3 separate regions of the Homo sapiens genome follow, and regions 1 and 3 are each linked to region 2. The links come from fine-mapping of genetic effects on gene expression. A gene starts in region 2. Each other region holds a variant in brackets. All regions are shown on one strand. Distances are from middle to middle.

Region 1 (10,625 bases), 81 kb before region 2:
TTAATGTACTTTATATTCTTACTACGACTGGGAAAATCATCTTTCTGAAACATTATTTTCTAATTGTTTCTGGTGTAAAAAATACAACAGACTTTTGTTTGGGTTTTTTTTTTTTTTTAGACAGGCTCTCACTCTGTCACCTAGGCTGGAGTGTAGTGTTACAATTGTAGCTCACTGCAGCCTTGACCTTCAAAGCAATCCTCCTGCCTCAGTCTCCCAAGTAGCTGGGTCTATAGGTGCATGCTACCACACCTGGCAAATTTTTTTTTACAGATGGAATCTTGCTATGTTGTCCAGGCTGGTCTCCTGGGCTCAAGTGATCCACCCACCTCAGCCTCTCAAAGTGTTAGGATTATAGGCATGAGCCACTATGCCTGGCCAGTACCTTTCATTTAATGGCAGAATTTTTCAGAAACATGTTAAAGATATAGAGTACACCAAGCTAATTTTTTTTTTTTTTTTTGGTACAGACGGAGTCTCACTATGTTGCCCAGGCTTGTCTCAAACTCCTGGGCTCAAGCAATATACCAGCCACAGTATCTCTAAGTGTGGGATTACAGGTGTGAACCACCATGCCTGGGATCATTTATGTCTTAAAAATTTTTTTTTTTTTCTGGCCTGTACCTAACTCCTTTCCTTCTGGAACTCTAGTTACAGGTATGTTAAACTGCTTGATATTGTCCCACAATATCAAGGTTCTATTAATTTTGCTTTTAATATTTTTCTCTCAGTACTTAATTCTGGACAGTTTATATCTATCTTTATAGTTTCTACTGCTTATAGAAACTATAATATATCACACTGTAGTCTAATATGAAACATCAAACTAAAAAAATAAAAACCTCTAACTTTTCTATCTCTTCCTTTTTTAATCAGGGAGAAAATGGAACATTTAAACTCCAAGGCAACTTCTATAAAGTTAAACAGGGTATTATAGAGTTCACCTCAATAAAAATTATTTCCATTTTTTTTTTTGAGGTTGGTAATTTGGCAAAATGTGGCACTACGAGTTCTGGCAGGTAATCAAATAATTTAATAGTTCATATTTACCCCAAAAACACACAAATGCCCATTAATAATTATGCTTAAGAACCTATAGAAGATATACAAGTCCTAAAAGAGCAAAAAAAGTCAGTCTTTGTGGAATTTAGACAAAAATCACTTCTAGATCTGGCCCTTACCTACCTCTTTATTTATTTATTCACTGGATATTTACTAAGCATCTGTTATGCACTAGGCAATGTGGATACAATAACGAATGGGCCAGGTGAGGTCCTGGCTCTCATGGAGCTCACATCTAATGAACAACTTTGTCTCTTGCTTTTCTTCCATATGCTCCTGCTACACAGGAACAACTAGCAGGTCTTCAAATGCACCATGTGACTTCACACTTCTGTTCCTGTCCACGTTATTCTAATTACTTAAACAGGCCCATCACTCCTCCCCTCTTTCGTATTCCAGTACTGCTGATGTCCATCTGGCAGATTTTTATGTGCTCTTCAAGACCCAGCTTCCAGTGTCTCTTCTGTGAAGCTTTTCCTGAAACCCCCACTCAGGCAGAGCTGCTTATTCCTTCCATCATGTCAGCCATGAACTTCACACAAACTTCTTTTACAATGAAATACAGTTATCTGATTACATGACTGTCCCTCACTGGATAAGTATCTCACAGATGTTTTATCTTTGAGATCCTAGAATCTAATAGTGTCTGAGGCATAATATAAGCTCTAATTTTGAAAAAACAGAAACACATGATTGGCAACATGAACAAGTTTTAAAAGGGGGTACTATGATAGATCTCTTCAAATACATTGAACTATTTATGTGTGAGAGAAATTTGCTTTCTTTCTGTATTGCAACTAACATCATAAATAACAACTGTGGCTATAAATTAAGAGAAGTAGAGAGATGGGAGAATTCTACTGGGATGATTCTAATTGTCTGGCAATGGAAATGAGATCCCTTCCACTGGAAATGTTGGAGAGAAAATGATGTTGGAAGAGGAATAGACTTATGATGCTGGAGAGAGGGGAAAAAACATGGAAATAAGGCTGAAGGTTCCTTACAAGTCACCAGAAAACAGCAACCAGAATACACAGAAAAGGAAGGTAACTCTTAAGAGAAAGGATACTTCTTGGAATTGGGAAAAAGGGAGGAGAAAAGAGACAAAAGGATTTTGATATTAAAGAAGAAGGTTTACTCAAGATAGTCTAGATATTACTGGTAAAAGGGAACTTCTCTTGAAACAGTAGAAAAAGAAATGTGGACTGGGGATGTGTGAAAAGAAGACATTTTAGAAACAGTCACTAAGGTAAGGCTCAAGTCAGTGAGACAGCCCAGATATGAAAATGTGCTTCATTTTCAAGGCCCAAAAAAGAGTTTCCAAATTTTAACATTCCTTTCTCTCCGGAAATTCTTTTTTATTTTGAGACAAGAGTCACACTCTGTTGCCCAGGCTGGAGTACACTGGCGTGATCTCGGCACACTGGAAACTCCACCTCCCAGGTTCAGGCGATTCTCCTGCCTCAGCCTCCCAAGTAGCTGGGCACGCGCCACCATGCCCCGCTAATTTTTGTATTTTTAGTAGAGATGGGGTTTTGCCATGATGGCCAGGTGTCTCAAACTCCTGACCTCAAGTGATCCGACTGCCTCAGCCTCCCAAAGTTTTGGGATTACAGGTGTGAGCCACCACACCTGGCCTATGTCCAGAAATTCTTAACATGTAACCCAGTTCACTCAGGTATTAGATTAAGTATGTTTCCTTTTACTCTAAATGCTGTTTGAAAAGCTGGTTAATTTTTCTTTTTTTTTTCTGAGACGGAGTCTCACTCTGTCACCCAGGCTGGAGTGCAGTGGCACAATCTCTGCTCACTGCAAGCTCCGCCTCCTGGGTTCACACCATTCTCCTGCCTCAGCCTCCCGAGTAGCTGGGACTACAGGCACCCACCACCACGCCTGGCTAATTTTTTGTATTTTTAGTAGAGATGGGGTTTCACCATGTTAGCCAGGATGGTCTCGATCTCCTGACCTCGTGATCCACCTGCCTCAGCCTCCCAAAGTGCTGGGACTACAGGCGTGAGCCACCGCGCCCGGCAAAGCTGGTTAATTTTTCTATCAGAACACTTACTAATTCAATACAAGTACTAATAGCATTGCTATCTCCATTAATAAGTAATAACTGTTATAACAGAGAGGACTGTAAGATTAAAAAAACAGAAATATTATAAACAATGGTGCAATTCAAGATGGACACTGGCTGTTTATTTTGTATATCTTCTGTTGAAAGCAAAAATAATAGAATCCTTAATTCATGTAGTTGAAAAGAATATCTGATCTAAACTCCCACCTAATAACCTGCAGTATCTCATAACATTCTATAGTTAATTGCAGAGCTCTGCCTGAGCATTACCACTGATAGGAAACTCAGTACTTCTTGAGGGTCCATTTAATTCTTGGACATTTGGAAAGTTCTTCCAAGAGTGTGGCAAAACAAATAAACAAACCCCAAAACAAAATCCAACTTCTCTCTAACTTCTCATTGTTCCTAATTCTGCCCTCTGAAATGTAACAAAGATCACTGCCCAACTGCCCATGGTGTAGTCAAGGTAGATAAATGGAATATAATAACTGTAAGTAAAAGAAAGGAAGCCAGGCTCACTGGCTTACACCTGTGGTCCTAGTTACTCAGGAGGCTGAGGCAGGAGGACTGCTTGAGTTCAAGAGTTCAATTCCAGCCTAGGCAACATAGTGAGACCCTCCCCCATCTCTATAAAAAATATAAAAACTGAAAAAAGAAAAAATAGGTGCAGTATTAGGGACAATACTTCACTTGTCAAATAGCATTTAGAGTAAAAGGAAACATACTTAATCTAAAACCTGAGTGAATTGGGTTACATGTTAAGAATTTCTGGACATAGGCCAGGCATGGTGGCTCACACCTGTAATCCCAACACTTTGGGAGGCTGAGGCGGGTGGATCACTTGAGGTCAGGAGTTTGAGACCAGCCTGGCCAACATTAGCCAACTATTGACTAAGTCAATAAACACCCGTCCCCTGAATGTTTTAAGAGCAATGAAAATAACCTCTTATATCTTCCTTGATGCTAGGATTCTGTTCAAACCCAGAGGGGTTATGAAAATGGTACAATTCTATTCAGTATTTCTTCAGATGAAATACACCATTAGATAAAATAACATGTGATTCTATAGCCAAACAACAATCCATTAAAAAGACAAGTGACAGCTCAACCCTGTCTCCAGGAACATTTGTCTCCTATGCTTTTATCCTTCATGGATTTGAGTTGAATGACATTTGCTGCACGTTGATAATTAGTTTTTCTTTCTTTTTCTAAAAAAAAAAAAAAAAAAAAGCAGCAGAGGCCAGTGTTGGCCTCTTCCCCAGGAGAGATACCAGCCTGAGTGGTTTGGGGATACATGCCTTGATGAGATTTGCACTATGACTCTTGAATGCATGCACCATCCCAGCAACACCTGCTCTCCTGACAGGCCACCTGGGACTGACAGAAAAAAGAACCATCAATTCCACTCTCCCCAGAGAGAACACCCAGACCCAGTGCTAAATGTACAATTCAATGTCATGTCAAAAAAGTAAAATTCCATCCACCAAAACCTACCAATTACCAGAGGTCAATATTTAGAGGACCTTAATAATGAAAATTGGCATAGAATTTTATTTTTTCCCAAGTGAATTGCAATCCAGCTAGATATTCAGGAAAATACCCCTTACACCAAGGGAAAAAGATGGGAAAAAGTGAAATTCCTTAATCAAACTGTGTGATCAACATATTGCTAAAGCCTTGAATTTTGGGTTCTATTTCCCATCATGAGACAGAAATATAGTTGCTTCCCACCCAGAAAATGAATTATATATTTTGGATTTTTTGGGCACACAGATTTCATGACACAAAACTGAAAATATGTGAGCAATAACGTTTTAATTTAAAGATCTTGGCCGGGCGCGGTGGCTCATGCCTGTAATCCCAGCACTTTGGGAGGCAAGTGGGCGGATCACCTGAGGTCAGGAGTTCGCGACCAGCCTGACCAACACGGAGAAACCCCATCTCTACTAAAAATGCAAAATTAGCCAGCGTGGTGGCGCATGTCTATAATCCCAGCTACTCTAGAGGCTGAGACAGGAGAATCGCTTGAAGTCAGGAGGCGGAGGTTGCGGTGAGCTGAGATCGCGCCATTGCACTCCAACCTGGGCAACGAGAGCAAAACTCTGTCTTAAAAAAAATAAAAAATAACTTAATTGTTAAAAATAGATGAAATAGCTGGGCGCAGTGGCTCACGCCTGTAATCCCAGCACTTTGGGAGGCTGAGGTGGGCAGATCACCTGAGGTCAGGAGTTCGAGACCAGCCTGATCAACATGGAGAAACCCCGTCTCCAGTAAAAATACAAAATTAGCCGGGAATGGTGGCGCATGCCTGTAATCCCAGCTACTCAGGAAGCTGAGGCAGGAGAATTGCTTGAAGCCGGGAGGTGGAAGTTGCGGTGAGCTGAGATCATGCCATTGCACCCTAGCCTGGGCAAGAAGAACGAAACTCTGTCTCAAAAAAAAAAAAAATTGGTGAAATAGGTAATCGGAGGGACAGAGACTGGATATTGTAACATTTTTGGAAACAAGGCTAAACAATGTTTAATAAGAAAATAGGCCCAGCACAGTGGCTCACACCTGTAATCCCAACACTTTGGGAGGCGGAGGTGGGCGGATCACTTGAGGCCAGGAGTTCGATAGCACCCTGGCCAACATGGTGAAACCCCATCTCTATCAAAAATACAAAAATTAGTCAGGCGTGGTGGCATGTGCCTGTAATCCCAGCTACTTGGGAAGCTGAGGCAGGAGAATCGCTTGAACCCTGGAGATGGAGGTTGCAGGGAGCCAAGATTGTGCCACTGTGTACTTCAGTCTGGGTGACTGAGACTCTGTCTCAAAAAAAAAAAAAAAGAAAAGAAAACCTGTAATTCTCCATTAACTCCTTCCCATGGCAATCACTTTCACTCTGTTTAGCTGATTCTTTTATATTACCTTTATGTCTTAAATGACTAAATAATATGCCTGTATTCCTAGGAATGAACCAAAGGAATGAAAAAAAAAGTGCCTGTATTGCTACCTCCTGATTTTTCAATTTGAGGCATTTTCTATTGACTTCCCCCAATACAGGAAGTGATAACTTGACTCTTTTTTTCCCCCTTCCCACCTTAATTCCTCATAATACACATGACATGCATCCTATCTCCTATCTTCTCAGGGTTATACATGGTAACTTAAATTAACATTCAGTTTCTACATTATTATGATTATACAAATACTATTTATAGCTAAGGCATATTATTAACTATGATTACTTTTCCTTACTTGCACATTTTTTTTTGTTTTCCCTGAGTTTTTCAGTTTGCTTGGTTT[T/G]CTCTGTACTTATCTCTAAATCAACCACAGAATCGACTATGTCTGTCTGCTGTCTAAACTTAAGATATTGAAACGTGGTAAATCATGCGATTTATCAATTTTACCTTCTTGAAGGCATATTCTGTTTTCTCCAAGTTGCCTTCCATTCATTGCCTTCAGTCCTTATTTTTCATTTTAGGGGCTTTTCTCAAACATTGGTAATTTCTTTTCCTATGTAAGAATAGGAGACTAAAAAGCTGCTTGAAAACTCAAGTAGGAGCTAGGCTTGTTGACTGTAAGCTTTGCTACAGTGTGATCAGGCTGTTTAGTTGTAGAACTTCCAGTGTCAGTGCCTTTATTCTTCTTGGGCTGATCAGATTCCCCAGATTAGTCTCTTCTAATTTCCTGACCGGAGAGTGAAGGCCTGGGTGTGGAGGGAGAGATGGCCTCAGCATATAATGCGTGCATAATTTGCTACATTTTCAGTGCAGGCCGGGCATGGTGGCTCACACCTGTAATCCCAGCACTTTGGGAGCCCGAAGCAGGCGGATCACTTGAAGTCAGGAGTTCGAGACCAGCCTGGACAACATGGTGAAACCCTGTCTCTACCAAAAAATATAAAAATTAGCTGGGCATGGTGGTGCCTGCCTGTACTCCCAGCTACTCAGGAGGCTGAGATGGGAGAATCCCTTGAACCCAGGAGACAGAGGTTGCAGTGAGCCGAGATCGTGTCACTCCACTCCAGCCTAGGTGACAGAGTGAGACCCTGTCTCAAAAGCAAAAAAAAACAAAAACGGCTGGGCGCAGTGGCTCACGCCTGTAATCCCAGCACTTTGGGAGGCCGAGGCAGGCGGATCACGAGGTCAGAAGATGGAGACCATCCTAGCTAATACGGTGAAACCCCATCTCTACTAAAAATACAAAAAATTAGCCGGGCATGGTGGCGGGCACCTGTAGTCCCAGCTACTCCGGAGGCTGAGGCAGGAGAATGGCGTGAACCCGGGAGGCGGAGCTTGCAGTGAGCCGAGATTGCGCCACTGCACTCCAGCCTGGTCGACAGCACGAGTCTCTGTCTCAAAAAAAAAAAAAAATTTCAGTACAGACCCCATCTTCCACTGGTCTAGTATCCACCGGTTGAGTAACCATTGTGTTTTAACTTTAGAGAATAAAGCTCCAGTCTTTTGTGGGAGAGAATAAAGCAGGTGATATAGGTATGTGACTCCTAAATACACTTTAATCCTCCTTATTTAAGCCATCTCCTCCTTCACCTGTACCACCAATCTTCAGCCTTTGAAGTTTCGTGAACTGCCTTGGTTCTTGGCTTTCCTCACTTTGTATTATTTTTCATAGGCTTGCTAAATTCACATACTTTCCACCTTCCAAAATCTTGCTGCTGTTGTCATCTCTCTTGTTCTCTCCTTGAGGGCTCTTATATTTTTTAAAAAAATTGTTTTAGTAGGGTTTCGAAAGAAAAGCCAGAGTGTACATTAAAACCATCATTAACCTTAAAGTGCCCTCCACATTTATTTTTCACTTCAGATGTCTTTAGCTTTTTCCATGATTATAACTGTTTTGTCATCCCCCCCACTCCTACCTTGGTTTTGTTTTTACATTTCTAATGTTAGCTATATTCTTTCTAGAGAGCGAGAGACAACTGGCAGACTATTAATAGCTTCTGAAAAAGTAGCAACGGAGGCTGGGTGCAGTGGCTCACGCTTGTAACCCAAACACTTTGGGAGGCAGAGAGGTGGATGGATTGCTTGAGGTAAGAAGTTTGAGACCAGCCCGGGCAATATGGTGAAACCCCGTCTCTACAAAAATACAAAAATTAGCTGGGCATGGTGGTGTGCACCTGTAGTCCCAGCTACCTGGAGGCTGAGGTGAAAGGATGGCTTGAGCCCAGGAGGTTGAGGCTGCAGTGAGCTGAGATTGTACCACTGTACTCCAAGCCTGCAGACAGAGCCAGACCCCGTCTCAAAACAAGAACAAAAAAGAAGGTAGCAAGGGAGAATAGAAAGGGTAAGTGCCTACCTGTTCCTTGACTGCTTTGATGGCTATGTTTCCATTTTCTTACTTAATTGTAAATATAAAATGATTCCATCTATTCAACATGCATTCGTATAGTCCTATTCTGTAATATACAGAAGTAATATAAAGCACAGTCCCTGAGTTCACTACAAGGGCCTTACAATTTAGCTGAGAAGACAAGCATAAATAACAATTGAAGAACAAATAAGGTTGTTAGGAAAGGTGCTAATGGAAGACAGGAAGAGGAGAGCTCAATGTCGTTAAAAAGAGAAAAGTTGGGAGAGAATATAACAATTCAAGAAAAATGAAATGATTAGAAGAGAAAATTAGTCATACATGAAATTAAGAAAATTCGGCTGGGCGCAGTGGCTCACACCTGTAATCTCAGCACTTTTGGTGGATGAGGTGGGTGGATCCCTTGAGCCCATGAGTTTGAGACCAGCCTGGGCAACATAATGATACCCCATCTCTAATATTTTTTTTTCAATAAAAAAATAAATAAATAAGGAAAGTAAGAAAATTCAATGTGGCTAAGAGGGTGGGAGAGCAATCTTTTTTTTTTTTTTTTTTTTGTGAGATGGAGTCTTGCTTTGTTGCTCAGGCTGGAGTACAGTGGCGATTTCCTCTCACTGCAACCTACATCTCCTGGTTTCAAGCGATTCTCCTGCCCCAGCCTCCCAAGCAGCTGGGATTACAGGTGTGCACCACCAAGCCCAGCTAATTTTTGTATTTTTAGTAGAGACGAGATTTCACCATATTGGCCACGCTAGTCTCAAACTCCTGATCTCAAATGATCTGTCCACCTCAGCCTCCCAAAGTGCTGGGATTACAGGCGGCAATTTTTTATTCACACTTATGCTTTGTTATCTTCCAATTACTGTCAGATTTTTTATTTTTGAAAATTTTGTTAAAACCTGTTAATTGAATGATAGTTATCAACCCCATGATGCAAAATAAAGTTAACTTGTAATATTTAAAGTTACACAAAAATTTTACTCACTGTGCCAGTTATCCATTTACTGTCTCTCGCTTCCTAACTCACCCTTTGCCCTGCTTTGTGATACTGGAGTTGGACCCAACAGCAGGCTACATTTCTTCTCTGTCACTTAGCCTGGTGCTTTGCTTTGCCAATAAAGGGCACTGGAGGGAGGCTGCAAAGCTGAGGCAGGAAAAAGGCCTTTTCTTCCTTCTTGCACCGTGTGGCTCTTCTGTGCAGCGACAAGCAGGTTGGCGTGCAGGGTCTCAGCTATGTTCACCTTGGCAATGGCAGTCCTTACAGTTCAGTGGTGGGGCTCCCTCCCCCAAAGATTCTTCACTGCCATCAGGTGGGCTGCTCCGGCAATGCACCGGCAGAGTGTTCCCGTGGCCATGTGTTTTCCCTTCAGAGGGCTGAACCTCAGCCTTGTGGGGACCTCCACTAAGTTCCTCTGTTGACTCTCCTTCAGTCCTAGGGGTTAGCAGCTTTCTGCTACCTCTGTACACCGTTGACTCTTCTTTTCCTTTCAGAAGTTAACCACCTTTCACCTAATTAACATTTTTTATTTTAAATTTTCCCTGTTCAGACCGGGCACGGTGGCTGACGCCGGTAATCCCAGCACTTTTGAGAGGCCAAGGAGGGTGGATCACCTGAGGTCAGGAGTTTGAGACCAGCCTGGCCAATGTGGCAAAATCTCATCTCTACTAAAAATACAAAAATTAGCTGGGCATGGTGGTGCATGCCTGTAGTCCCAGCTACTTGGGAGGTTGAGGCAGGAGAATCGCTTGAACCCAGGAGGCGGAGGTTGCAGTGAGCCGAGATCATGCACTGCACTCCAGCATGGGCAACAGAGTGAGACTCTGTCATAAATAAATAAATAAATAAATTTTTCCCTGTTCAAATTACTCCTGACTGTTCTTGGCTAATATGATTACCCTAAAAGACCAAATATATGAAACACAATGTGATACTAATTAAGGTCTATCCCCAAATCCTAATGTTAAGACAATCATGAATATAAGGTTACCCAAACCATAAGTTCTATGTACTGAAAAACATGATGAGTAAAGAACAAACTATGTCAAAGCAAGTTCTGTATTTTGTTAAGATAAAATTACAAGATTAGTGGCTGACGAGAACGCAAAAGATGAAATAACCTGATTATAAGAAAGCATTTAATATTGCTTCTCCTGGCATCTTCCTTGCAAAATTAAT
Region 2 (10,625 bases):
GAGGCAGGAGAATCGTTTGAACCTGGGAGGTGGAGGTTGCAGTGAGCCAAGATCACACCACTGCACTCCAGCCTGGGCAACAAAGCAAGACTCCATCTCAAAAAAAAAAAAAAAAAAGAGTGCACTGTTATACATGCCCACTTGGGCTTTGGGAGTCACAGGCACCCACCCCTAGATGCTACCGTGGGGCTGGAGCCCAAAAGTGCTCGCCCTGACTCCTACACCTGCCCATCTGCGTGCTCCCTCTCCCATAAGAGGATTGAGTGCACACAGACAAGCCACACCCCTGTCGTATGTCCTGCGGTTAGGGAACTCCCCTATTTCAACATGAGGACTTTTATCTTCATCTGTATGCCAATGACTCCATATTTATATTTCCATTCCCAACCTTTCTAAAGAACTACAAAGGTTTATGTCCAAGTGGTTATTTGAATCCCTCTCTATTTACATATAAAAAAACTGCTTAAGGCCAGATGCAGTGGTGCACGCCTGTAATCCCAGCAGTTTTGGGAGGCCGAGGTGGGTGGATTGCTTGAGCTCACGAGTTTGAGACCAGCCTGGCCAACATAGTGAAAACCCATCTCTACAAAAAGCAAAAAAATTAGCCAGGTGTGGTGGTGTCAGCCTGTAGTCCCAGCTACTTGGGAGGCTGAGGTGGAAGGATGGCTTGAGCCCAGAGGTGGCAGCTGCAGTTAGCTAAGGTCACACCACTGCACTCCAGCCTGGGTGATAGAGCCACATCCTGTCTCAAAAAAAAAAAAAAAATCCCCACTTAAACTTTAAACCTAATTATCTTCAAAACCATATTCCCCCAATCTTCTCCCATCTCAAGAAATAACACTACCATAAATTCCAATTCTCAGATCAAAAACCCAGATGTCATCCTTCATGCATTCTTTTCCTTCACCCTTCCATAACCAATCCATGAGTAAATCTAGTCGTTTCTACCTTCAGAATACACCCTGAAATCAAATAACCCAAGGAACCATCACTTCTTTCTTGGACTACTTCAACAGCCTCTTAACAGATCTCTCTGCTCCCATTCTTACCCTTTCCCCTTCACACCCCCGGAATCTATTCTCCATAAAGAGGCCAGAATTGATTTTTTTAAACGTCAATCAGTTCGTGTCTCTCTCCAGCTTAAAGTTCCTCCCAGCTAAATCTGTGAATGTGTATCTACCACACTCTATAAAATCTTACTCAGCCTCTACCTAATTCTTTGACATCATTTCTCTTCCACTCTTCCCTTGCACACAGTAGTACTCAATATTAACATTTGTTGAGTTTTTATTGTATGCTCAGTATGCTAACCAGTTGCATAACTAGTTCATTTAATGCTATAAACAGCAGTTCTTAACATTTTCTGGGTAACCACATCTCTGGAAATCTGGGAAATAAAATGAACTCACTCCCCAGAAAATATACATACGTACAAAATGTACTTTTCTCTAAACTGAATTTGTTTTGCCAAATATTCCAAAGGAATTTCCAATGGCATTTTAATTGTAAAGAACTCAACTAATACATTGCCTTAATTAAAGCATCCAAAAATTAGCTTCTCTTTGTTACCGATTTCTGAGGAATGTTCAACCATAACAAAAGTAAAGTTATTGGGCCAGGTACAGTGGCTCATGTCTGGAATCCCAGTGCTTTGGGAAGCCGAGGCAGGAAGATTGCTTGAGCCCAGGAGTTTGAGACCATCCTGGGCAACATAGTGAGACTCCATCTCTACAAAAAATAATAAGGTGGGGGCATGGTGGCTCACGCCTGTAATCCTAGCACTTTGGGAGGCCGAGGTGAGTGCATCACCTGAGGTCAGGAGTTCAAGACTAGCCTGGGCAACATGGTGAAACCCCGTCTCTACTCAAAATACAAAAATTAGCCAGGTGTGGTGGCGTGTGCCTGTTATCCCAGCTACTGGAGAGGCTGATGCATGAGAATTACTTGAACCCAGGAGGCGGAGGTTGCAGTGACCCGAGATCATGCCACAGCACTCCAGCCTGGGTGACAGAGTGAGACTCCGTCTCAAAACAAAATAAATAATAATAATAATAAATTAGCTGGGCATGGTGGTGTGAGCCTATAGTACCAGCTACTTAGGAGGCTGAGATGGGAGAATCGCTTGAGCCTTTGAGGGTGCAGTGAGCTATAATCATATCACTGCATTTCAGCATGGGCAATAGAGTGAGAGAGACCCTGTCTCTAAAAGAAAGTTAAAAAAAAATTATTGGGGGTACAATCTAATAACCTACATGGGTGACCTTATGATACCACAGTCTGGGATAGAACTCAGACTCTGCTGTGAGTCTTACTCTCATAAATTAAGTAATTAGATGGCTGTATTTGAATTTCAGTTTTCTCCTTTTCAAAGACGCTCCAGCAAATTTATCACGAAAAAGACAAAAGAGTAAATGACAAACATATTAAAATAAATATTATCTGAATTAAATTTTAAAGACAGTGACAGGTGGAACACTAAAAATAGAAGTGAAAGAGCTAGGCCGTGGAATATTTTGGAATGAGATACTTATTTAGAAGCTGAATTTAAGTTCAAAGTGCTTGACTTGATTTTTTCAGATTAAAAAGAAAACATTAGGTGGAGAGGAGTGAAACTTTGTAAGAGATGAGAATGAAAACTTAAAAATCAAGAGTGCAAATAAAGTGACCATAGAGATGGCTAGAAAAGGAAAAAAATTTAATTTTTTTTTTTTTTTTTTTTTTTGCAATGGAGTCTCGCTCTGTCCCAGGCTGGAGTGCAGTGGCGTGATCTCGGCTCACTGCAAGCTCTGCCTCCCGGGTTCACGCCATTCTCCTGCCTCAGCCTCCTGAGTAGCTGGGACTACAGGCACCCACCACCACGCCTGGCTAATTTTTTGTATTTTTTAGTAGAGACAGGGTTTCACTGTGTTAGCCAGGATGGTCTCGATCTCCTGACCTCGTGATCCACCCATCTCGCCCTCCCAAAGTGCTGGGATTACAGGCGTGAGCCACCACGCCAAGCCAAATTTAATGTTTTTAATACTCTTCCTGGCCAAAGAAAGGAAACTAAATTGAGAGATGACAGGGGAAAAAAATCAAACTCAAGGAACACATCTCTAAAATCCCCAAAGTTTGTAAAAACAATTTAAAAATAAACTAAAAAGTTTAATAACAATTACTTCTACTTGTATTACTTGGCTTTTTTTTTCAACTGTGGTGAAATATACATAAATTTTACCATTTTAATAACTTTTAAGTATACATTTCAGTGGTATTAAGTACATTAATTGTGCAATCATCACATTCATTTCCAGAATTCTTTCACCTTCCCAAACTGAAATTTGGTACCCATTAACAATAACTCCCTATTCCCTTGCCTGACTTTTTAAATGCCCTTCTTTCTGGCAAGAGAAGGACATTTTTGCAAGAGCGCACCCAGGCAGGAGAATCTCTTTTGACTCCAAACATCCATAATTTCTTTTTTTTTCCTTCTTTTTTTTCTGAGACGGGGTCTCGCTTTGTCACACAGACTGGAGTGCAGTGGCATGAACATGGTTCACTGCCGCCTCCACCCCCTGGGCTCAAGAGATTCTCTTGCCTCAGCCCCCCCAAGTAGCTGGGACTACAGGTTTGTGGCATCACACCCAGATAATTTTTGTATTTTTTTGTAGAGATGGGGTTTCACCATGTTGTCTAGGCTGGTCTTCAATTCCTGAGCTCAGGCGATCTGCCTGCCTCAGCCTCCCAAAGTGCTGGGATTAGAAGTGTGAACCACCACGCCCAGCCATAATTTCTAATACAGTATGTACCTGCGCTCACAAAATTTAAGACTCGGTTAAACTTAAAACTTAAGATCAAGTAATATATTATTTCTGCATATATCTAATCAATCTTTCAATAAATGTTAATTAAAGACCTACTGTTCGTCAGGCACTGTGCTAAACCTGGATCCAACTATGAACAAGACAAACTTGGAATTTACAATCTAGCGCAAAAGGGGCAAAGTTAACAGAGTAACTATGCTGACAAGGAAGATACTGAGATAATGAATAATGGTGGGAAAGGGCAACTCCAGATACTGTGTTCTAAGAAAGACTCTTTGGGAGGTGACATCTAAAAAGAGAACTGAAACTGAAAAAAAAAAATGTTTATATGTTTGAGTCATCTTTTGGTCTCCCAAAGCACCTAGCATTATGCCTTTCATGTAGCAGGTACTTAATATAGCTCACCTTGGCTTCAATTTCTTCATTCCTGCAATGAACTTCCAAGATTCCTTCCAAATATAAAATGTTTTTGTCTAAGGGAAGGAAACCTATATATCAATAAAATCGATATATAGTTGGGATGAGGATGGTAGAACTAAAAATGAGTTTAAAAATGACTGCAAGACCCTAACTCTCTAAAGCAGAACCAAGAGGAAAAGCATGGGAGTATACCAAAACAACTTAATTGTTACTTGAAATGACTTGCATTTTACACAATATATAAACAGAAATCGTTAATTCACTCAGCCTTAAGAAACAACACGTAAAGCAGATGGAAGACAGGTTGCGACCTGTGCAAGACGACACTTAAAAGCTCAATACTGATTCTCCTCGCGACTCTCAGGGCGAGGGGCCGAGAACGTCCCCCGCTTCTCTTGCTGCCACGGCAATGGTCCCAAACTGAGGAGACAGGAGAGAGATCATGTTTCTCTTGCGGTTCAGTATCGAGATGAGGTCAGCCAGCAGCCCTGCGAGGGTTTGTGAGAATCATTCCATCCGTGCGCTCAATCAGAAGAGAACTGATCCTTTCAATGGGTACCCCAAGGAAAAAACTACAGTAAGCCACGTCCTCCAGAAACATCTCCTCCTCGACCCTCAGCCTCGCCCAAATAGAGATAAGGAAGGCACAGGGCGACCCCCCTGTCCTTTTACCCAGAATGAGTCCCTCCCTAGTGCCCTCCTCCACACGCCTGGTACAGAGCGGGGAAACTGGGCACCTCCGGAGCTGCTGTGAAGAACCGGTGAGCTGAAGACGGCGATGGATCTCAAGAAAAAAAATAAAAGGGAAAGGAGAAGAGCCCAAGAAAGAAATGTATGTTCGAGGGGCAGAGACAGAGTGGATGTTCCCAGTAGAGCAAAGAAGGAGGCTGCAGGCAAAGATCTCTAAGCCGGCTCTTACCGTCTGTGGGAGACGCCATCTTCCAACCCATGTCACGTGACGTGGCCAACCGTCGGCGGGAAAACGAGGTTCCATAAGCCACGCCCCCAAAGAGAAACCCTATCCCCAACTCGCAGCCCAGTCTCATTCCCTCGCCTCATAGGGCAATCTTTGCCTAGCCCCGCCCCTAAGTATAGCCACGCCCCTTACGCGGATGTTGAGGTGGAGCGACTGCAAAATTCTTGAAGGGTCTTATTTACTTTTTTCAGTGGGGGGGTGGGGCCTCGGTTCCGCCCTTGGCCAATCGGAGTTCCAGGTTAGGGGGGCGTCTTCCCCGTGTGCTCGGTAGGGAGTGTCCAAGTCAGGGGCGTCTTCTCTACCTCCGCCTACGTCATTGGCTGAGGTGGCAGAGGGCGAGAGCATTTTCGCTCCTAACCAATCACTTATCCCCAGGACGGGGGTGTGAGGAGAGGAATCAGGTGTTCGGACCAGTGATTGGCTGGAGAAAATAGTCCTCCCCACCAATGAGGAAGCCTGGCAGGATGGAGGGCGAGGCCTGGCAGCTGTAGTGCTTCTGGGCAGTAGAGGCGCGGGGTGCGGAGCTAGGGCGGCCGAGAGCCATGGCGGCGCTATTGGCGGCGGCGGCAGTGCGAGCCCGGATCCTGCAGGCGAGTGAGGGTGGTGCCAAGGCACCATGAAGCTAGGAATTGGATCCTTTCCGTCCGCTCCCTGAGCCATCCTCGGGCGGGACCACCTTCTTGGCCCAACCCCTTTTTGGCCAGACCTCCTACCCGACCTGTGCGGCCCTGTCCCATGCCCAGCCCTCACTTCATAACCTCCCTGGTCCCGGATCCAACCCTGGGCTGTTACCCTTGGCCCTCTACCCTTTTACTCCTAAGCCTCCTCTTTTCTGGCTCTCGCCCACTCTCCTTCTCCAGCTCTGCCCGCTCCCTGCTGTCACTCTCTTGCCCTCATCTCTCCATCCGCCCACCGTCTTTCCTTTTTACCTCTGCACCAGCCTTCTCTCTCTCCCCCAGAAACTACTCTTTTTGGTTACTCTGTCCCCTGCCGTGAGCGTCCACTTTGCCATTGCTCCCTTCCCCCACCCTACTTCACTATCCGTGGTGATCTGAGGTAAGGGGGAGGGGGGACGCGAGGGGCGAGGGTCAGTGTATGAACTTTGAATTTCCTTCTAGAGGTGGACTCTAGATTTTCACCAAAGGCAGCCATTTGCTAAGCTATTTTCCCTAAGTGTGGCTCTTTGTATTTTCCATGGACTGGCTGTCCCCTTTCTTGCCAAAACTTTGAGTTAAACTTTTTCTCAGCTAAGTTACAGTTTACATAGATAGGGCACATCTACATAGATAGGGTAGATAAGGGCACACAGTTAAAGCTACCAGTATGTTCCATGTATGTTCAAGGTACCAAACATCTTTAAAACGGGTGATAGAAAGTGGGAGCCAGGTAAGACAAGAAGTCTAAGTTCCCACCCCAAAATCAGCTCTTCTAGTGCTACACACCCTCATCTCTGCACTTGGGGGATTGAGTCCTCTCTGAAGCCAACCTAAGGAGAAATGGTAAAGCTACAGGAGTTGCATGCCTGAGGCCTGTAATCTCCAACTCTGTTTATAGTCTTTCCCCTGTTCATGGCCTACCAAGGATTTAGAGTATGTGGCAAGATTTACCGCAGGCAAGAAACAGTCTGCAAGAAACAACAGTGCCGTTCTTATTCATTACATCCAGTCTGAGAATTTCCTCTATATTGCTGAGCTTTTAGGTAATATTAGTATTCACCAGGTTTCCGTGAGTTCTAGTAAAGAAACTTGGGCAGTTTTAAGATTCTTGGCAGAGTCAGCAAAGATTCATTTTTAAATATGCTATTTAATGGGGAAGGTAGAAAGGATGAGTTTGAAGGGTTTGGCAGATGGTCTGGCCTCACTCATATTTCTTGCTGCGATCCTTGTTCTGTTCTAGTATCTTTTTTTAGTAGCAGGAAAACAAAGTTTCCACCCTATATTTTTCTTACCAACTTCTTGAAATCTTTTACTGAAATTGGCTTTTTTCCTTTGCCTCCTCTTCCCCTCCCATCACAATGAGTCATTGAGAACCTTAAGAAAGTATTTTGTCCTTTTCCATCAAGGAGAAGAATCTCTCTTTCCATGTACTTTTATTTCAGAAACAGACACTATGTATTTTCTGATTCATTTGGAGAAACTTCTGAAGTGACCTGGAAAAGAACAGATAGAGTAATCCTCAGCCAACTAGGAGTTGTAACGTGAATCTTTGATTAAAAGTTCGATAAAAAGTAGCCTACGGGCCAGGCGCTGTAGCTCCTGCCTGTAATCCCTGCACTTTGGGAGGCCAAGGTGGGTGGATCACCTGAGGTCAGGAGTTCGAGACCAGCCTGACCAACATGGTAAAACCCCTTCTCTACTAAAAATACAAAAATTAGCCGGGTGTGGTGGCGGGCGACTGTAATCCCAGCTACTCAGGAAGTTGAGGCAGGAGAATCGCTTGAACCCGGAAGACGGAGGTTGCAGTGAGCTGAGATCGTGCCATTGCACTCCAGCCTGGGCGACAGAGCAAGACTCCATCAAAAAAAAAAAAAAAAAAAAAAAAAACCTCGATTTTGGCAGCCATGAATATTAGAGAACTATCAAAAGGATTTATAGAGGAGAAAGTTAATGTTTTCAATTATTTTAAGTATTCAGCTTATTTTTCTCTGCCACGAAGAGTAGTCAAACTTAACCTAAAACCTCTCTCTGCTCCTTGTGATATTATCACTCCCATGCAGAGATAAAGGAATGTTCGAGACAGGGTCTCGCTCTGTCACCCAGGCTGGAGTGCAGTGGTGCAATCACAACTCACAGCAGCCTCGACCTCCCACGCTGAAGTGATTCTTCCATCTCAGCCCTCCGAGTAGCTGCAACAACAGATCGTGCCCCCATGCCAGCTAATTTTTGTATTTTTTGTAGAGACAGGGTTTCACCATGTTGCCCAGGCTGGTCTTGAACTCTTAAACTCAAGCTATCCTCCCACCTCAGCCTCCCAAAGTGTTGGGACTACAGGCACGAACCGCTGCACCTGGGCAAGAAAATTACTCTTGAAGAGATGTAGCGACTTGCACTGTCGGTGATATGGTTACCGAACTAGTAACTGATGGGGCTGAAAATTCAGAACTTAAGTCTTGCCATCTCTTTCTATGTTAGGCACTGACATAGGCTTACAGTAAAATGCTCACTGAAAGCTCCTTTATTGTACTGCAATAAGTGATAAACAATAGGAGTATCTGGGATACTGTGGGGACCTAGGGAAAGAGCCAAGTATTGCAGGACTAGCAGGCCATGAACCAGGAGAGGAAGGAGTTCCTTATAAAGGATATAGCAAGTAGGAAGTAAACATCTAGAGAGCAGCAGTTTGGGGTGACTGGCCACAGGATAGTTTCTTCAGCAACAATGCTAATGGGTGTTTCTTAGGAAATGAAGAAAAGATAGAAGATCGAACCTGTCAAAAAACTATATGAATATGTTCTATTATACCAGATGTAGTGCTTTTTACATCCTCTTAACAGCAGGGAGGCTGTATACAAGTGAAAAAATAAAATTTAAGTGGCCTAGAATGCTCAAGTTGGCTGATCAGTGCATTGTCTGCCAACTTGAGAGTACTGAAACAATATCAAATGATTGCTTGGCGAGTACTCATTCTTTCATTGTGCAAAATATTGCTTACTAAGTACTTACTCTCTTCCAGGAATTGTGCTAGGGGCTGGGGACACAACAATCTAGTGACCTCAAAGGAGAGAAAGTTAATCATTAGACAAGCTATTATTTCATAGCGTGAGATGAGAAATAAAGGAATTTGGGTGCTTTATGAGCTTCACAATCAGCTGCTTACCATAGACCTGAGGTTGAGACTTCCTAGAGAAAGTGATGATGGCTGAGTGGGGACCTAAAGGAGTAGGAATGAGCCAAGGAAATTAGATGAAACAGTGCCAGGCAAGAGAGAGCAGCATGTGCAAGAGCAAAGAAAGCAAGACACACGTTAAATTGCAGGAGCATAGAGAACAGGGAGGAAAGTAGCCAGTTATGTAACTAGAAAAGCAAAGATACTATGTAGCGTTTTCTAAGCAACATCAAGGGGATTAGTCTTTATTCCAAGGGCAGTGGAAAGCCAAAGAAGAATTTTAAACAAGGGAATAATCTGACCAGATTTATGTTTCAGAAAGACCCTCTGATTATGGGATGGAAACTAGATTCAGAAAGTTTAAGAGTAGGCTGGGTGTGATGGCTCATGCCTGTAATCCCAACACTTTGGGTGGCCCAGGCAGGAGGATCGCTTGAGGCTAAGAGTTCAAAACCAGCCCTGGCAAGATAGGGAGGCCCCATCTCTACAAAAAAAAATTTTTTTTAATTAGCTGGGCATGGTGGCATGTGCCTGTACTCCTAGGTACTTGGGAGACTGAGGCAAGAGGATCACTTGAGCCTGAGAGCGAGGTCGTGTGCACCTGTGGTCCCAGGTACTTGGGAGGCTAAGGCAGGAGGATCACCTAAGCCCTGGAGATTGAGGCTACAGTGAGCTGTGGTTGTGCCACTGCACTCTAGCCTGGGTGACAGAGTGAGACTCTGTCTCAAAAAAAAAAAAAAAAAGAAAGAGTTTAACATTAGAGGCTGAGAGATGTGTTAGGAAGCTATTATGGAAGGTCAAGTGAGAGACAATGATGGTATAGACTGGGATAATGGCAGGACAGCTAGAGGTGAGTGATGTGTTTCAAACAATTCTAGGACAGACTGCCAGGAGTTTTTTGCTTCCCTGCAGAGAGAGAGGGAGGAATTGGAATAGTATCTGGGTTTCTCCTTTGGCAACTTGTTAAGGAGTAGCCCTATTTACCGAGAGGTGGGCTATAGGAGGCATAGCAAACTGGCAAAAGGAAGATGCAGAGTTTAGCTTTTGCTTTTGTTTTTTGGTTTTTGTTTTTTTAAGATAGGGTCTCGCTCTGTCACCCAGGCTGGAGTGCAGTGGCACAATCGCAGCTCACTGTAGCCTCAATCTCCAAGGCTTAGGTGATCCTCCTGCCTTAGCCTCCCAAGTACCTGGGACCACAGGTGCACATGACCATGCCCAACTAATTTTTAAAATTATCCGTAGAGGTCACATGTCGTGGCTCACACCTGTCATCCCAGAACTTTGGGAGGCCAAGGTGGGCAGATCATTTGAGGCCAGGAGTTCAAGACCAGCCTGGCCAACATGACAAAACCGCATCTCCACTAAAAATACAAAAAATTAGGCCAGGCGCAGTGGCTCACGCCTGTAATCCCAGCACTTTGGGAGGCTGAGGCGGGCGGATCATGAGGTCAGGAGATCGAGACCATCCTGGCTAACATGGTGAAACCCCATCTCTACTAAAAATACAAAAAACTAGCCAGGCATGGTGGCGGGCGCCTGTAGTCCCAGTTACTCAAGAGGCTGAGGCAGGAGAAGGTGTGAACCCAGGAGGCGGAGCTTGC
Region 3 (10,625 bases), 120 kb before region 2:
GCTGGCACAGGGCCTCAGTGGGTGGAAGGATGGGGGTAGGAGAAATAGTAAACTGTCAGCTCTTCTGAAGGGTTACAGAAATGGTATTCTGCTTAACTGACTAGTCAAGGTAACCAGAAGTTACTATATTTTCCCTATAGGGATTGCCAATGTTTTTTTTGTTTGTCGTTTGTTTTTGTGTGAGACAGTCTCACTCTGTCACCCAGTGTGGAGTGCAGTGGTGCAATCTCAGATCACTGCAACTTCTGCCTCCCAGGTTCAAGCAATTCCCTTCCCTCAGCCTCCTGAGTAGCTGGGAGTACAGGCACCTGCCACCCTGCACAGCTAAATTTTTTTGTATTTTTTCATTTTTTTTTTATAGTAGAGACGGGGTTTTGCCATGTTGGCCAGGCTGGTCTTGAACTCCTGACTTCAAGTGATCCACCCGCCTCAGCCTCCCAAAGTGCTGGGATTACAGGTGTGAGCCACCATGTCCGGCCTAGGGATTGTCAATTTTTAACAAATGTGAGTATAATAAAAAATTAAATACTACATGGAATCTGTTTTATAGATCTATCCATCAAGCAATTATATACGTAATGGGTAAGATATGCCATGCACCATTCTCAACACTTTGCAATACTCGTTTAATCTCTACAGCTACCCTAGTAGTTAGGTGCTATTTGCACCCAGGCAGCCTGACTTCAGAGCCTGTGCCCTTATCCATGATGCTGATATGACTCTTTAAAGTGGAAAAAGTCCTAAGGAAACCAAGGCTTAGAGAGAAGTAACTTACACAAGATCACCCCTGCCTCTCTCTCAAAATCCAAGCACTTACTATATCTTAGACCAGCAATGAGGCTATGAACACCGAATGTCAAGGCACAGTTCATTCTTTCAACAAATGCTTATTTTAGCACCTATTATGTGCCAGGTAGTTCTGTTTATAACCAAAGAAACTGTAGGAAATTGAACAAATTTGGATCAATTCTTTGGCATGTCCCAAAAGTTATTTTTAAAAGTCAAATCTTATCATTATCCTCTCTGTGCCTCAGAAAACTGAAGGTAGAAAAACAATGCAACTCTGATTACTTGAGTTTTTTGGCTCCTCAGATTCTACATAACTGAATCTCCTTTGGTATTGGAGGTCACTTTCAGAAACATCAGGTATAGAGATCGAGACAGAAAGCAGAGGGCAAGAGAGAGATGAAAATATGTGAGCCCAATTCTGCTCCGAACTTGGGTTTAATTGAGATTCCAACTGCCACTCTCCCCTGCATTCCTTTGTCCCTGGCTATGACCAAGTTTACGGCTGTATCGCCCCAAGTAATCCCCGTAATGGGCTGCAATCCTGGGGGAGCTGTTTTTGTTCATTAAGTGACCAACCTCTGAGCCACATGGAGCGCGGCCAGTTACAGCTTCTTGCCCTGGCAGATGGGCCACTTTTCTGTTTTAAAAAAACAGGGATCTTTCAGGAGAGAGGAGATAGTAGGCAGGGGTTGGGGACACAATCAGGGACATAAAGGTGATGGGTGCTAGAAATGAAGGCCAGAGTGAGGGGGGCAGTGGGTGCCCCTTCCAGGTCATGCAGTCTTCTAGGGCAGAATTCACTCACGTGCTGTGTGTTAGCTTTCTTTGCAATGGTAACTATAGTTGTGTAGGGCTTACAGTTTGTGAAGGGCTCAATGTAGTTCCTGGAGTGATGCTACCAGTCTGCAGAGGTGGGAGGAGTGAGGGGGCCATAGACAGGAGGCAGCGAATGAACAGAGTAGGGCAAATAGCTGAGAGGGGGCTTCCCCTGAGGGTCAGAAATTCTCAGTGCTTCAGACTCCAGCTCAAGTGACAGGGGCCAGGCTGTGCCAAGAGCAGTTCTCTCAAGCCAACTGACTCTTACCTCTCTGCCCACAGCCCCAGTGTCTGCTTCTTGAAGTTGGGGAAACATTGCAGCAGCTGCTTGTTGGGAGACCCGTCCCCTCACTGCACTGCCCCACCCCCTCCCCGCCACCTGCCCCACCACCCCATGTCTGTCCTCTGGGTAGAGTTGTGTGAAGCGGAAGACAATTTGGGGCTTATTAGTGTCCCAGGGAGACATGTAACTTGTGTTGCTGGGACCCAAACAGCAAGAGTCTTAGCGGCAAACTCCAGCCGAGAAAAGACTGAGGAATTGTCTCACCTAATTACAGGGAATGGCCCTCTTTGTGTTTGTGATTCGGTACGGTTGTCCGATCGCTTTTGATCGCTTTTCTCTATTTGCTGGCTCAGGCCATGCTGGAATTGTGCTAATTAGAAGAGAAATGGACAGAGTGATCCTGTCAGCCCTGGTTACTGGTGGGGACAAAGCAGAATATTATTCTGAGGCAGTGTTTTGTGAGGGCCCTTCTTCCAGCTCTCATTAGGAGGAAGGGGCCCACAGGAGGGGAAGGTTCCAAATGCCTGGCCCAGCTAATGGAGCACTGGGGTGTTTCTGTGCTAATTAACAGGCTTTGCCAGCACTCACGCCAACCAGGAGCCTCACAGTTACACCTGGTATCGTCTGAAGCCCCCAGCTGCTCGAGAGGAAAAAGCGCCAGGCAAAGGGTGGGAAGGCCAGTGGCCTCTTTAGGCATAGACAAGGACACACACCCCAAATGCCAAAAAGCCTACATAGATAGGAAAAATCAGTTCCAGTCCATCAGAACTTACAACCGTGGAGACACCACCCTTTGCCACTCTCTGGGGTTGGGGGTTGCAAGACTCTCTGGTGAAACAAAGCCCACATAGGGACCAGGTATCCTTGTAGCTCTCACGAGATGAAGAAAACAGAAAATGGAGAACATAACCAAATTCTTGGAGACGGAGTTAGTGCAGAAGCTGAGAACTGGTAAGAGACTGTGTTATTTGGCTTCTGCGACCATCCACCTTGGCCCAACTGTCCATTTCCTCACTTCCTGCTCTGCCTGTTCACCTTCTTGTGATGTCTTAATCCTGGAGGAAACAGGAGGGGTCAGGGAATCCCACTGGAAATGAAATTTCTCGGCTTCATTTCAAAGCTCCTGTGGAAGTCCAAACACACTTCTGAAGCCACAGGGACAAGGGAATGACTTTCATCAGTTCCATTTTCACTGCCTTGATCTGGGAGCATCCAGAAGAGCAGCTAGAGAACTAAAACCACGGAGCAGTTAGCAAGCATCCATTTAAAAAATATGACAAAAATGGAAAGATAAAAATGAATGATGGCATTTCAATATCAACACAATTAATACCCTGTGAACTTTAAGTGTTCTAACCTATGGAAGGCAGGCCAAGCAAATCAGCAGAGGCCTAGAATCTGTGAGACTGAAGACAGCAAGAAATAATGAGAGTGCTGGTAAGAAAAAAATGTCAATAAGAATTTGCAAATGTGTCTCCAAGCTCCAATACTATGCTTTTCAGAATGTTGCTGCTCACAGCTGACAGATGCTTTACAGGATGGTATTTGGAATGGCAAAGGAAAAGGGAAAAAATATCTGTAGGCAAATAATAAACAATTACTTACCGTAAAAATAGTCTCTAAAGACTTAGAACACTCCTAACACTGTCCCTACTTAGTCAATCAGCCATGCTTTTCTAGATCACAGAAATCTACTGTTCATCCAGATGTCTTTTTTGGAAATAAATGATGGGCCTATGATGAGAAGCAATTTGCTTTCCTTAAAATGAAATGCTTTCTTTAAAAGGGCATATTCTGGTCCAGAGCAGGTAAACTATCAATGAGTGATAGCAGTAGCAATAATGAGTACTTCCTCTTTTCTAGTTCTTGAACATGGTTGAAAAGGAACCCACACTAAGGGATTTAGAAGATGGCAGATAAATACTTGTTTTCAATCTATCATGTGTAACCAGAAGCCTGCAAGCAAACAGGTTTTGAACCCCTAGTTCAAAGACACTGAAGAACTAGATGTGCAGGAGACAGCTATACCTTGAGAAGCTTTGAATTTAGTAGGGCAATAAGATATGTACTCAGTGTCAGGCGTAGTGGCTCACACCTGTAATCCCAGCACTTTGGGAGGCCGAGGCGGGAGGATCACTTGAGGCCAGGAGTTCGAGACCAGCCTGGCCAACTTGGCAAAAACCCGTCTCTACTAAAAATACAAAAATTAGCTGGGCGTGGTGGCATGCACCTGTAATCCCAGCTACTAGGGTGGCTGAGGCAGAGAATCGCTTGAACCCGGGAGGCAGAGGTTGCAGTGAGCCAAAATTGCACCACTGCACTCCAGCCTGGGCAACAGAGTGAGACTCTGTCTCAAAAAGAAAAAGTACTCAGACCACTTAAATATAAGGCAGACTATGGTAAGAGTCACAGGGATGATATGGGTAAATGCTATAGGAATGTAGGGGAAGGACCATTTCCAGCTGGATCATCAGGAGATTATAGGAAGCATAGGTTTGCCAGATGCAAAAGGGATCCAAGACCTTCTAGGAACTCAAAGGCAGGAGCAAAGGCACTCAAGTGAGAAACTGGGAACTGTTCAGAGTAACTGCAACAGAGACTTCATATATAGGAGAGGAAGAAAACGAAACGGAAGGGTTGCTTAGGATTACATGTAGAGAGTCTTAAAATGCCGGGTCAAGAGATTGAGACTTTATTAGTAGACACGGGAAGGTATTAAGGGTTTCTAAATACTACTTTCGGGTGTTGGGCAGTGGTAGGATAGAATGGAAGGCAGGAGACCAAGTAGATGACTGTAAAGCCCCCAACTATCCATTAAGTATATTAAGGGGGAAAACAGTAGATTATTTATCATTACAGTTGTACTTTCTGGGGAGGTCTGTGCTTTAAATATCCAACTCGGCCCTCTGAGGAAAAACTCACCCTCCTGTAAAAGGGACATATTTATTATGAAGACACAAAAACCATCACATACAAAGTACAATACTATAACATCCTGAAATACATATACACACATACTGTACATAAATTTATATTATCAATATAAAAATACATCATTAACATTTCTAAGGATGACAAATACTAAACCAATAAATATTGCAATTCTAAAACATCTACTTACATTAAGTGCTGGTGAATAGGATGACGGTAAAAGAAAGAGGACAAAGCGGACCAGAAAACCAACCACCTGGCTTCCAGTTACAGACTTGAGTTGGTTTGGGGGAGGTATCCCAATCAATTTCCCCAAACACTGAAAAGTGCCTGATGTCATCAACTCTCAAAAACAGAGCAAAGGAAGAATTTGACATTATGGCACTATTTTTTGGCCACATGCGCGCGCGCACACACACACACACACTCTTCAACCGCATTTAGTGAGATACAGAAATATCAATCGATAATAAGTTTAAATTAAAATCAAAGCCCCTACAACCTAACCTTCTATGTAGCACCCCAGCAGAATGTTTTACTTCTCATACTCATCTTTCCTATCTTGTGTTAAGTCTTTTTTCCTTTCAATAAGTAAAACTACATTGATGGTCAAATGAGAGAAAAATCCAGCATTAATTCTAGCATGAGAACAAGGCACAAATGTCAGAAAAGGTTTAATGGATCAGCTGTTAAACTGAAGAGTGCCATGCCCTAGCAAACACTCACGACTCAAAACCATAACTTTTCTTGTGTCCAAACACCATCAGACTATTGCCACAGGGATATTCTTTTTTTTTTTTTTTTTTTTTTTTTTTTTCTGAGACAGAGTCTCACTCTGTTGCCCAGGCTGGAGTGCAGTGGCATAATTTCGGCTCACTGCAACCTCCACCTCCCGAATTCAAGCGATTCTCGTGCCTCAGGCCCCCAAGTAGCTGGGACTATAGGCATGCACCATCA[T/C]GCCCAGCTAATTTTTGTATTTTAGTAGAGACAGGGTTTCACCATATTGGCCAGGATGGTCTCGATCTTTTGACCTATGATCCACCTGCCTCGGCCTCCCAAAGTGCTGGGATTACAGGCGTGAGCCACCATGCCCGGCCCCAGGATATTCTTTTGTGCAAAGTTTAGGAAACTCCATGCACTTCTCAAAACATCAGATGCTGGGGACTGGCTTATACAAGAAATATGGAGAACACATATAATAGATTTTAGCCATGGGCTAGATTTTCAGATTTTAACAGAGACAGATAAGTGGTGAAGAACTCCATGAAAGTTGTATTTAAGTCAGAAGATTCTTTTTCGTGTGTGTGCGTTTCTATTATATAGATGAACTATTTCATATGTGCTGTCAGAGGGGACAATCCCACCATCCCATAGCATGTTACTTTAAGGTCAATTAGGGCTTCTAGCTTTCAACCAAATGGGAACTCCTATAAACCATCCCGTTTCTCTTGTCTTTCAGGCTATACTGACTTTCTTGCTTGAAGCTGTAACAGATTAATTAGAACTCAAAAGTCCTTTCTGTCACCTTCACATTGGTCTTTAGACAACCTTGGATGGGCCTTTCACTATACAAGCTAATTCCAGGAGGGACTCAGGGATCCCTCTGCCCGAAGTCAGAACTAGAAGGTGGGGCTGGGAAGTAAGGAATGAAAAGCAAATGGGACTATCATAAGAGGTATAGAAGTTTTAAAAAACAGATATACATTTCGAGAAGATTCTGGTTTCTTCAGCTGGGGATTCTGGGAACTTAGTATATACTGGAGAGTTCACAGGTCAGGCTGCATGGTCTGGTCCAGAATCTACTTGGTCTCTGGTCTCCTCACATCGTAAACACTTTCTAAGAGATCAAGAACAATTCAAAAGAACCCATCCAATCAACATGTCACAACTGACTGCCATGACTGAGTCAAATCAACCGTAAGATCCTGGGGCTCCTGAATCACTTCCAGAAATGAGAAAGCAGGACTTCGACCTTTAAGAATGATATGCCCTCAGCTGTTACCAATATCCGAGGCTAAGAAGGTTCAAGTCTGAAAGTTGATTGAGTAACTGCAATGATCCTTGGGTAGAGCAGATTCTTCTCTTGCTGCTGAATGTCCTCAGACGTGTAGAGTGCCAGGAGCAGGGGAGAGGGCAGTCCTGGAGGTACACCCTCTGGCCTCTCCCAAGCAAGCAGTGAGGTGTGCATTGTTAGAGGTGCACCGGGAAGGGAGCTTGGTTTCGGACCCCAGGACATCCTGTCCGCAAGCAGCTGCTACTTCTTGGGCTTCTCTAGAATATTGAGGAATTTCCCCCGTGTCATCTCTCTGGCTGGAATCACAAAGCAAACAAATGATCAATGAAAACCTAAAATCGGAAAAAAGAATCATAGGAAGATTTAATTTAAAAATGCAGATTGATTTAAATTATATATCAAGTTGCTATCACAACAGATTCAATCATCACCAACTAACCTAAAAGGGGGTAAAAACAAACCACTATAGACAACTAAAACTGTACAAAGCTATTCTGAAGTTGGCAATTGAGATACATGCCAAATGACTGGGAAAGATTTTATCATCCACCTTTAAACAAATCACCAGGGGATTCCCCCAAAACCTATCTCTGTCTCTAGAATCTAACCTAATACTCATGTTCACTATCTCAGGGGGTTTGCTCTTGAAGCCTAAAATCCAACCAAGATTAGTCTTCTCTGGGTTGCTGGTCTCTGGACATTTATAATCTCAAATCAAAATTAGAGATCATTTACCCTATCTCTCAGCAGTGTTAGTCCCTGGATACTGTAATATAACAGGGTTTATATTCCCTCAGTGCAGTTCATCTGTGGATGGTGTCATAAAGTAGGGTTTATAGAGCTTTGGTCTTCTCTCCCTTGGCATTGTCAGTCCTTAGCTATTTAATATAGCCAGCCAAGGTTTATGTGTCTTTCTCCGGCTTTCAGCACCATCAATCTTTGAATGCTATAGTTACAAGTGGGTTTATACAGCTACTTTCCTACATATAAGGCTCCAAAATGAAAGTAAAACATTTCTCAATTACAAGGGCTACTCCAGAGGTCTCCCATTTTAGATCTCAGAAAGCATACGTAGTGTAACAGCCCCTTCCTCATCCTCATCCTCATCCTGCAAGGCCATGTTTTCAGATTTCTTAAATGGATTTAACAGTGCAGAAAGTTTCTGATCGCTGATGGCTGGCTCTGGAAGCCAGGCCTTCTGGAACCATGCAGTAGGCACGGGGTAGGCTGTGTGGTCTCCCAAGAACACATCTCCGTCCTGGCCAAAGAAGTGAGGTGGCTAGGGAGGCACTCTCAGGAATGAGAAGGACCTTCACCCTGGCCTCCTTGTTGCCTTTCCCAAGTCCAGAGCAAATGGAGCTAGATGAATGGCCTCCAGCTCCCCTCTGCCCCAATTTAAGTTTAACAGTTTCTTGTTTTCTTGTACAATGAAGAAATAAAAACTACACAACCTCTGGGACCACAGGGAGGCTTTTGTAACTTCAGTCTATACATTCCCCATCTTTCACTAGTTCCTGTGCCCCAACAAAGGGAAAGGAAATTCCATTAACTAGGCATAGAAGCCCAGTGTTGGGTCTTGCCTCATGTGCTCACAACCCCAACCCAGACCAAATCAAACAGACCATTCCTTCCTTCATGGATTTACAGCAAATCCTGTACAAGAAAGTTCCCATAAGACTTGCATGCAATTACTAGCTTATATGGTTGTCTTCCTCCACTAAAATGTAAAAACTGAAGGCAGAGACTGTTAAGAGCTTTGGTCTTCTCTCCCTTGGCAAAAGATCCACAATCAGATCCAAACTCCAGAGCACGTGCTCTCCTGTTCACTTGTCATCAGAGATGTTAACATTTCTGATTAATTCATATAGCCCTTATTTTATTCCTCATTTCTTTATCCTTGCTCTGCTGCACTGCGAAGATTCTTACCGACCTGCTACAGACTCAGCAGACCTAGTGTCTGCTGAGTAAGTGTTGACTGGATAAATTATAATACACCAAAGAACTAGAACCAAGTAGAAATGCAAAAAATGTTAGTTTCCTTCCTTTCCATTAACAAATATGACTAGTTAGTGGCCCTCAGTGCTCCATTCTCTACATGATGGGAGTCTTTTTAAATGTGCCTTGCTTATTTGGCAAGAAAATCATTTCCCTTAATGCAAATAATGCCAAGTTCATGGAGAGACTGGGGTCAAGGACTAACTACTCTAGAGAAAATCCAATCAAGTACTGTCTTGCCCATAGGAGGTAGCATGGGCTTCTTGCAGAGAACACAGGATTTGAACTCAGTTTAAGTTTCAGCTCTAGCACTTAGCAGCAGGGTGACACCTTGGGCTGGGCAGATCTCTGAGCCTCAGTCTCTTCATTTGTAACGGAGAGCATGTTAATACCCTACTTTTCTCTTGGATATTAGCAATGAACATGCTTGGTATAGTGCTAATCATTAACACAACACTTTCCAGAGGGGGGTAAGTTCTCTCGCACTTAGTATTTTCTGAGTGAGTGAATGAATGAATGAATGAATGAACAAACTGCACAAAGGGAGGCTAGCAAACAAAACTCCGTTCCTTGGAATCTTTTCCCTCAGCTTGAAGGAAAAGAAATTTACTTATACTTTTGGGCAGATTGGGTCTCACTTATTTCTACTAGATGGGTTATCTGTCTACTCTCAAGTTTAAACATGTAACTAATGATCCTGCAACATGGCTAGAAGCAGGAGCTCTGGAAACCAGACACGGTCAATACAAAAGTCTTCTGGAGAGAATAGAGCCTTGTTCCAAAAATCCTGGGCCTGGAGCACTGCATTGCTCTAACCAATGATTTCTGCCTGCTGACCTTCAGACTCACCAACTCCTTACTGTTTTTCCCCAAATGGGAAAATGACCAATATTTTAAGACTTAGAATTTTAAAAGATCCACACAATTTAAGGGGTCAAAAGGGTTTAAAAGGAAAAATAAATAGATATTCTGAAGTCTCTCAGTGGCAAGCTCTCCTTGAATTTAACCAATCCTTTTTAACAACCCTTTTTCTACTCAATCATTCCTCCCCCTTCAACCTAATCCAAGTACACAGAGCTGCAGGAAACCACTGTAAAAGTAGAAGTAATTCAAAAGACATCATCTCCTACATGGGAGGAGAGAAAGTTTTCCTACTCGCCAGTCCCATACAGGAGATATACGAATGTATGACACAGCCGCTCCCTAAAAGAGGGCTGTGCCCTATAAATCAGATGCTAAGCACCAACCCCTTTTTGTGCACAGAGAAATTGCTGTGGGTCAGGGGCTGCTCCAGAGCACGTGCCCTCCTGTTCACTTGTCATCAGAGATGTTAACATTTCTGATTAATTCATATAGCCCTTATTTTATTCCTCATTTCTTTATCCTTGCTCTGCTGCAGGGCGAAGATTCTTACCGACCTGCTACAGTAATCACCGCCCGCTAACCGAACCCCCCCAAACCTAGTGAAATTGTTTAGTGATGCCAACTGCGCTTTTAATTTGCAAGACATCAGACACAGAGGTAATTTATACTAACATCTGTTCATTTTTGACTTCTGAAACAAACTTGCACATACTGCTACAAAATCCCATTAGGAGTAGGGAGACAGCCTTCTGCTACTATTCTGTATTCCTCGTCTACACGCGCACACACACACACACACACATACACACACACACCCACACACACCTCTTCTAGTAGGGTCTTATAAATAAATGTATTTTACTCTTAGCTTTTTAAGCTCCCATCAGGAATTTCAAATCTCTTTGGGGAAAAATCTTTAGAGATGACTACTGC

Direction of the effects. Positions count from the first base shown, and alleles are read on the strand shown. Sizes are in standard deviations (SD) of each study's normalised expression.
With allele T in place of G in region 1, the expression in pancreas of the gene that starts at base 5,180 in region 2 is higher (moderate effect, 0.42 SD a copy in GTEx).
For the expression in nucleus accumbens of the gene that starts at base 5,180 in region 2, allele C in region 3 goes with a lower level than allele T (moderate effect, 0.42 SD a copy in GTEx).

Evidence for each region. PIP is the estimated chance that this variant, and not a neighbour inherited with it, causes the effect. A credible set is the group of variants that fine-mapping cannot tell apart.
Region 1: its variant is the best candidate, but not a certain one, in a credible set for the expression of LIN52 in pancreas (GTEx, PIP 0.89).
Region 3: its variant is the best candidate, but not a certain one, in a credible set for the expression of LIN52 in nucleus accumbens (GTEx, PIP 0.89).

The regions. Positions count from the first base shown.
Region 1 is chr14:74,160,857-74,171,481 of GRCh38, reverse strand. The region is part of intron 5 of LIN52 (lin-52 DREAM MuvB core complex component); the gene reads right to left. Among named protein-coding and RNA genes, the nearest start is that of VSX2, 73 kb to the left of the region's middle. The variant T/G (reference allele first, on the strand shown) is at 6,428.
Region 2 is chr14:74,079,511-74,090,135 of GRCh38, reverse strand. It overlaps LIN52 (lin-52 DREAM MuvB core complex component), which reads right to left and starts at 5,180. Exons shown (of 6, transcript NM_001024674.3): 1 at 5,143-5,180. The coding sequence starts at 5,161. ALDH6A1 (aldehyde dehydrogenase 6 family member A1) reads left to right here and starts at 5,683. Exons shown (of 12, transcript NM_005589.4): 1 at 5,683-5,789. The coding sequence starts at 5,742. It also overlaps a transcript of BBOF1 not described here. RefSeq lists enhancers at 4,062-4,151, 5,092-5,271.
Region 3 is chr14:74,195,426-74,206,050 of GRCh38, reverse strand. LIN52 (lin-52 DREAM MuvB core complex component) reads right to left here. Exons shown (of 6, transcript NM_001024674.3): 6 at 4,558-7,129. The coding sequence ends at 7,074. Among named protein-coding and RNA genes, the nearest start is that of VSX2, 39 kb to the left of the region's middle. RefSeq lists a silencer at 3,678-3,878. The variant T/C (reference allele first, on the strand shown) is at 5,777.